Homo sapiens: one gene and its partner. The protein of the gene in region 2 interacts with the protein of the main gene of each other region in a biochemical or structural test. Each region holds a gene or a part of one and is shown on either strand. Other genes may lie near its edges. The genes, in order: NEK2 and CSN2.

Evidence for each region.
Region 1: of the proteins of CSN2 (region 2) and NEK2, one has a biochemical effect on the other in vitro, tested with the Homo sapiens proteins (one study listed by BioGRID).

What each region holds. Positions count from the first base shown.
Region 1 is NC_000001.11:211,668,980-211,672,808, forward strand, and holds part of NEK2 (serine/threonine-protein kinase Nek2), read right to left. Parts: intron 2,306-3,829; coding exon 2,223-2,305; intron 1,429-2,222; coding exon 1,302-1,428; intron 354-1,301; coding exon 134-353; intron 1-133. UniProt on the Homo sapiens protein: Protein kinase which is involved in the control of centrosome separation and bipolar spindle formation in mitotic cells and chromatin condensation in meiotic cells.
Region 2 is NC_000004.12:69,955,410-69,959,238, forward strand, and holds part of CSN2 (beta-casein isoform 1 precursor), read right to left. Parts: intron 3,661-3,829; coding exon 3,640-3,660; intron 3,545-3,639; coding exon 3,500-3,544; intron 2,396-3,499; coding exon 1,865-2,395; intron 947-1,864; coding exon 941-946; 3' UTR 905-940; intron 184-904; 3' UTR 1-183. UniProt on the Homo sapiens protein: Important role in determination of the surface properties of the casein micelles.

The DNA of each region.
Region 1 (3,829 bases), on a different chromosome or scaffold from region 2:
GTTTCTCAAGTATTTTTCAAAAGCTTCTAATAAGATCTGTATGTATAAAATATTCTGCTCAAAGAGATATTCAGACACATCAAAATAACCCACTTGGTAGTTCTCCTTTGCTTTGACCCCCATTCAGACTTACGCTCCAATCTTTCTTCTCTTGCTTTGAGAGCTCGCTCTCGCTCCTGTAACTGAATTTCCTTCAGTTTCAGCTCACTCAATACAGGGCTGGAATCCTGCGATTTTTCTGGCTCTCCTAATTGTCGCCCTCTTCTCTCAAGATTTCTTCTTTGCTCGTCTGCAACCAAATCTGCTATTAAAGGGTTCTCAAGAATTTCTTCAACAGAAGGTCGATGGTAATCCTGGGGAAAAAATACTCAGTATTATAGTCAGATTGCATAACAGAATAGTCCTCCTAAGACAGCAGTTAAAATAAAAGGACAAAAATGTGTTTCCAAGACAAAAGAAAGGACTCCTTTATGGCTAGGTCTTAAAAACTTGGAAAAATAAGTTCACTGGTGGTTTTAACTCATGAGGTTCTGGGTCCACAAGGTAATGCAGATGTTAACTTACCTTTTTTCCCTTTTCCCCTTTTCACCTTTCTAAGAAGGTTCAATCCCTGAAGATTGGCACATCTTGTGCTGGGGCTTGGTAGCATTGCTAGGGTCTGTTTTAGGGGAAGTACTGCCCTTGCATTTCTAAACTACATTTAGCAAGATACTCTCTCACTGACTCTCAATCCTGTCACTTCATCTGTATCCTTCTCTGTGATCCTACGGCATTTTCCTTCTTCTCTTATGTCAGCCTGGTCCCCAGAACATCTCCTTCCCCATTCTATAGCCAGAGTTTTTCCACATAATCTCTTTATTGATTTTCCCTCTGTTTTTAGCTGTCCTCCGTCCGCCCTCCATCACCCCTCCCCTTCTTCTGGTCTTTAATCTCTCAATTAGAGCTAGAGGCAGAGTAATAAACTCTTATTTCTGGCCCCTTCCCTCACTACCTGCCACTGTGAGGTAGGCAAGGACAAGGGGAACGAGAATTTGAATTCTTTTTGCAATCTTTCCTTGCTACCGACCATCTGTTAGCATGACAGAGTGGGAGGAGAAATAAAGAAAGCGCAGAAGGTGGGCCAGCAAGGATGTGCAATTTGCCAAATTTACATATGTTTTCACTTGTGTTAACACAGTAAATTTAGCTAAGAAAGTATATTTAACGTTTCTTCAGTCTCCATTGATCTACAAGAGAGAATGTATGCTCTGACACTTAACTGACAGCTAGAAACAGACAATATATCATCTTATCATCTTTACCTTTAAGTTTAACATCCTCGTAATAATTTCATTCAATTCATCAGAGTAACGGTATGGAATTCGCCTGAATTTGCCTTCTCTGATTTTCCCAGCGAGTTCTTTCTGGCTAAAAGCTGTAAATGGAGGCCTAGGGTTAAAAAAGAAGAAGAAGACGACGAAGACATTTTCAAATTGTAAAAATGAAAATATACAATAGGAACTAAATCAAAAGCACAGCTTAAGCTCCAGTTTGTATTTAAGTTTCTACTTCTGGGATTTTCTTCTTATAAGTAAGTTTCCCAACCTTGGCACTATTGACATTTGAGGTCATATAATTCTTTGTTGTGGGGGGCTGTCCTGTGCATTATAGGTATTTTGTAGCCTCCCTGCCCTCTACCCTCTAGATGCCAGAAGCACTCCCCAGCTGTGATAACTAAAAATTTATCCAAACATCATCAAATGCCCCATAAGAGGCAAATTTGCTTCCCTTATCCCTAGTTGAGAATCACTGCTCTACAGAATAGTTTCAAAGGGAAAGAAAATGAAAAGAAGAACAAAGGAAAAGAATTGGAGCTCTTCCCTGCTCTACAGATCCCCAGACCTCTACCCGAGTCTTGTTTCATTTCTTCCACATCCTTACAGTAGCTTTACCTTACCTGCCTGACCTATGTGCTCTCCCTTGAGCTAAGTGTCAATCTAATAAGAAAGCACCTAACCAGCCAAGACCCTTGAACAGTCAAGACCCAGCCTCATGGCTTATAGTTTTAATTTGTGAATAGTTTCTTTTAGCCTGTTCATCTATCTACCTTAATTTTACCCAGGGTACAATTCTTTCAGACTTGAATATACTTTCGTTAGCACAGAGGCTCAAAAAACTGAACCCAGTGAAATGTGACAAACAGTACAAACCTTAGACTAGGAATCTGTCTTCATCATACTTACATTAATGCACATAACTCATACAGCAAGCAGCCCAATGACCAGATATCTGATTTCTCATTGTAGGACATGCGATTCATTTGTTCCTATACAGGGAAAAAGGGTAAGAAAGTGGAAGGTGTTAAGAGTTTATTTTGTTTTGAAACTTAAAAAACACATTAAATTACTCCTGAGATAAAAACAGAACCTCAAAGTTTTTAGCTTATACTTTATCTTGAAATTTATAATGGAAAAAAGGCAATGATCTTGTTCCAATACACTCCATCATACATAATTCATTCACTCATTTTCCATTCACAAATGAAAGTGCTTAGTATAGACTAGGCACTGACAATACAGAGGTGAATATGAGAGACTTCTACTCTCAAGGCAAATTAAGAAACACCATTTTAAAAGAACTAGAGGAAATTTAAGAATAGTCAAAATATGTATCTAGTCCACATTTAAATGGATATAGACATAAATAGCTAATTGAATTATCCATTTATATTTTGTCTTAGTCCACTCCATAAATCACAGTAGTAACTAATATTATCCTTACCTATTTTATTGTTTGCCTTTCTTCCACATCTACAGTAACAACAGCCTACCAGAGCTCCTATTCTCAACAGAGGGAATAGAAGCAATCTCTAGTGGCTGGTTAGTGTTTTAAAGTCCAACTGGTGAGTCTGATGCCACTTTTTGACAATCAGTGCCTTAGGAAAGCTGAACCACTCTAATTACAAGGGCAGGAGGGAAAAGGAACAAAAGAATAGGTTTCAAATTTCCCAAGAACCACTTCTGGATAATTGTCCTTTATGTTAAAAACATTCTATTTGGAATTTGATACAGTGAGAAAATGGTACTGTTCTGGCTATTTTTAGTCAAAACCAAAATCATTAATTTACAAAGTTTTATACTATAGTAAGATCTGTTAACATAATTTATAAATATTTGGAAAATCCTAGAAAGGTGAACTACTAAAATACTAACAAATATTTCTTCATCTTTATCTGTTCAGATGTTATATACTAACACATTAGTGCTATCACAATTGACTTAAACTTTTTAAAAGCCATCAGACAATATCTAATAACAGCCATAAACATTTACCCCAGCAATTTCATTTTATGAGCTACACTCCAAGGAAATAACCAAAAAGGAAGAAAGAATAATTCATACAAAGATATGCAGAGCAGTACTTCTAAGAATGGTGAAACATGTTGGAAACAAAATATCCAGCAATAGAGGTAATTGGTGAGTGGACTCAGCAAGATATTTCAGGGATAGGCAACAAAAAAATAAAATGTACAAAAAGTTAACATTGTAAAAACATGCTATCTGAAGTGAGCAAACTTCCTGAGCTCTGATTCTGCATACACAAGAATCATTTACAGAGCCTCTTAAATGCAAAGTCTAAAATAAAAAGTAAAATATTAAAAAAAAAAAAAAACAGAGTTCAAGAACCCACCCAGAGATCGAAATTCACTCGATGGATTTGGGTTTGGGTTTGGGACCCAGAACTCTGCATTTTAAACAAACACTCCAAGTGAGTCTGATGCAGATAACTAGGACCTACACATTGGGAAACAACTCTTGAGGGCAAGGACAAAATCCATTTCATTTTTGTA
Region 2 (3,829 bases):
TTAAGATTTGGAAAATGTAAATAGTTCATGAGTCAAATTTCAAATTAAATGAATGACATAATATATAAAATAAATAAAGGGACAAAGTTCATTTTTTCCATATAAACTCATTCAAACATACTTAATTTGGGGTAACGTGATACAAAGACGGAAAAGGCATCATATTTCCAGTCTCAGTCAATTCTGTGGAATAGAGAGCAAATATATAATTAGTTATGTTATAACACGTAACTATTCAACTCTCTTCACTTTTAACTTTGGTGTGACTAATTCACAAAAGAAATTGTATTGCAAATGCATTCTGTTGCGGTTTGGAGGCATGTAAAGTTTGTTCACCAAACTTCACCAAAGTTCATCAAATATTAGTGAACTTGAAATTGTTTCAGTGAAATGTCTGGTATTTCATAATCCCAAAAGGCTTTATATCTTAGAATTGCAATGCTGTTCTCTCCTCTTTTTAACCTTTACACTTGGAGTAATTTTAACTCATGAATTAAAAGATAATTTTAAGTAAAGTAAATACAAATTTTATGAAGGCTAGGTTAGAAATAAAAATGCAAATAGGCTTTTGACAAAAGCTCAAATGTATTTCCATAAAAGTAAAATAAGTATATATTCTGTCTTTCCTAAAAATAGTGATAATCAAATGTAAGTATATAGGCCCTTGAAAGCAAGCCAGTCAAATCTGTCAATAGTACATAAATAAAATTAAAGTTATTTGAAATGCAAAAGATAGATAGTTTCAGGTCAGTAAATGATAGTCAACCATTAAATTGATAATTAATAAAAAAAGTTCTTGTATGTATGAAATTTTCACTGTATTGGACTTCTCTAGGAGAATTAAATGTAAAAAGACATCATGTATAAAAATGATCAATTAAATCTCCAAACTCCCAAAACTTACCAAAAATAAGGAGGGAAAATTAACTTTGAAATCTTCTTAGACCTTAAAAATAAACAGATACAAATAAATAAATAACCTCTTAGTAAGAAAACTTGCCTTAAGAATGTTGTAAGTAGTGAAATAAGCATCTCCGTCTTTTGCCTTCATATATATTTACAGCAAAAACCAGATGTGAAGTAAGGCTTGTGTAAAATAAATAAATAAATAAATAAATAAATAACCTCTTAGTAAGAAAACTTGCCTTAAGAATGTTGTAAGTAGTGAAATAAGCATCTCAGTCTTTTGCCTTCATATATACTTATAGCAAAAACAAGATGTGAAGTAAGGCTTGTGTAAAAGAGATGTGCACAAGGAAAATGACAGAACATTTTTTAGCTTTTTTTTCCAAATTCAATCATATTATTAAATTTAATTCCGGCTTTTGTAAGCCTTAATTACTTTATCTAAATCAGAATTCTCAACAGACTAATTAAACCAGAATTCATGCAATAGTTTTTTTCTCAACACTCAGTTTCCTCTACACAAAAAACTAGAACAATTATATCAGAATCTCTGGGTAAGCTTAGGCATTGGGATTTGTGGGGAAAAGTTCTCCAGGTGATTCTATTGTATAGGTAAGCATTAAGAATCACTTATCTATGAGAACACATGGACACAGGAAGGGGAACATCACACACCTGGACCTGTCGTGGGGTGGGGGTAGGGGGTAGGGATAGCATTAGGAGATATACCTAATGTTAAATGACGAGTTAATGGGTGCAGCACACCAACATGGCACATGTATACATATGTAACTAACCTGCATGTTGTGCACATGTACCCTAAAACTTAAAGTATAATAATAAAAGAATCACTTATCTAAACTGTTTTTTTAATTCATTTACTCTACATTTATTCTTTTATTCTACCATCACATACACATCTTGAATGAAACAGCAAAGCCAGTAAATTTGGACTTACACTAATGGGGTTATGAACTGGGGCAAGTGGCTGAGTCACAGGGTAGATCTGGTGGGTGGGGTTAAGTAGAAGTTCTTGGTTGAGCAGAAGGGCTTGAACAGGCACAGCTCTCTGAGGGTAGGGCACCACTTGCTGGGGGATAGGCAGGACTTTGGGCTGAGGAACAGACCACAGGGGCTGAGGGGGAAGTGCAAGAGTCTGAGGAATAGGCTGAGGGACCTGCTGCATCAAGGGCTGGAGCAGAGGCAGAGGAAGATGCAGATTTTCAAGATCAGTGAGTTTTGGGATTTGAGGGTCAAAAAAGGGTATCGTTGGAGATTTAAGGACAGGCATCACTCTGCCCTTAGTGTAGACAGTGTCTTTAGCTTTAGGGACTTCCATTATTTCAGGCTGAGGGACAGGCAGCACCACAGCAGGCTGAGCAAGAGGCAGAATGTTTTGTGGAAGAAAACCATAGGGGATAGGTTCAACGAATGGATAGATCAGAGGCTGTGGCTGGAAAGAGGGGTAGATTTTATCCTGGTGTTCATCCTGGAAAGAAGGAAAAAGAATCTTTGAGTCCTTGATTAAGCTATAATTGCCATTCATAATGAATTCATTTCTCTCTTTTAGACAATGATAAATGAGTAAAAAGAGAGGAGAAAATATTTCACTTATTTTGGTTAAGAAAGTATCTTGAGTCATGCGAAGAAAAATGAGTAAACTGTTTGTTGAAAAATTTTAATCCACTCACTTCATGGGTAACTCCACAGGCCAAAGTGAAATCAATGTTTGGATATTTCAGAAACACTTTTTTTAACATTTTCCTGAATTGCCTGGATAGCTGTAGCTGTACACTTTGGTCTTCAGAGAGAATTTACTTTTCAACACAGTTGTGCCAATAGTAGACCAAATTGTTTTCATACAGTGAAAAGAGATCAGTTTAAAAAGACTTAGAGGGACAATTCCAAGGTTTATTTTTGTTTTGTTTTGGTTTGATGAAAAAGAAAATCAGTCTTAATTTGTGGCTAATCTCAGGAAGTAATTTAACACCGGCCAAATTCTTACATTCCTTCCCTTGGGAGAAGATAGTCTCTTGAGTCTTTCAAGAGACATCAATTTTTTTGTTTAAATTTGATTTTAGAAATATTTTATGTGACTCCAAACAATTCATTGGTACACAAAGCAATTGAAAATTATAATTGGGTAAACATATCACCATAAATGTAATTTAATGAAATACAGGATTTTGTGTTGTCCATATGGGAATAAAGGCAATATGGGACAAATTTTACATAGGTTTTTTTACCAGCCGTATACACCTTTTCATTACCATATCCACCTTGGAAATAAGAGGATCATAGTTCCCAACCTGGAAATGTTCCCACCAATGTGTACTTGTTGAAAACAGATATACCATTAGTAATATCATTATGTATTTAGTCTGTATTCTAGAAATTAATTATGAGTTTAAAAATGCATGCATATCCTAGAAAATATATTGACTTTATCAATGTTTAATTTTTAAAGTGGTTGGTGGGTATATGGCATTTATTTTATTATCATTCTTTAGAATCAACATACACATTATAAATATTTTTGTATGTATTATACTTTATAATAATTTTAAACATATACTTATCATTAACAAATTACCTCTCCTTGCTGCTGGTCCTCATGTTTAACCTTCTCAACTTTCTGCTAAAGATATATCATATATAAAGATATGTTACCATCTGTAAAGATTAAAAGGAGGAAATTTTGAAAATGTGTACATTTTAAATGTGAAAATTTACCTTGTATTCTGTAATAGATTCCTACAGAAAAATATAAAATAAAATTAGGTTTAGTTTTAACAATTCTTACTTTGCAATATAAATCAGGAAATAAAGGCATTAATTCTTTGATAATATCATTAATAACTTTGTATAATCATTAAACTTATGTATTAAACTGTTCTATATGAGCTTGTTATGTAAAAGAAAG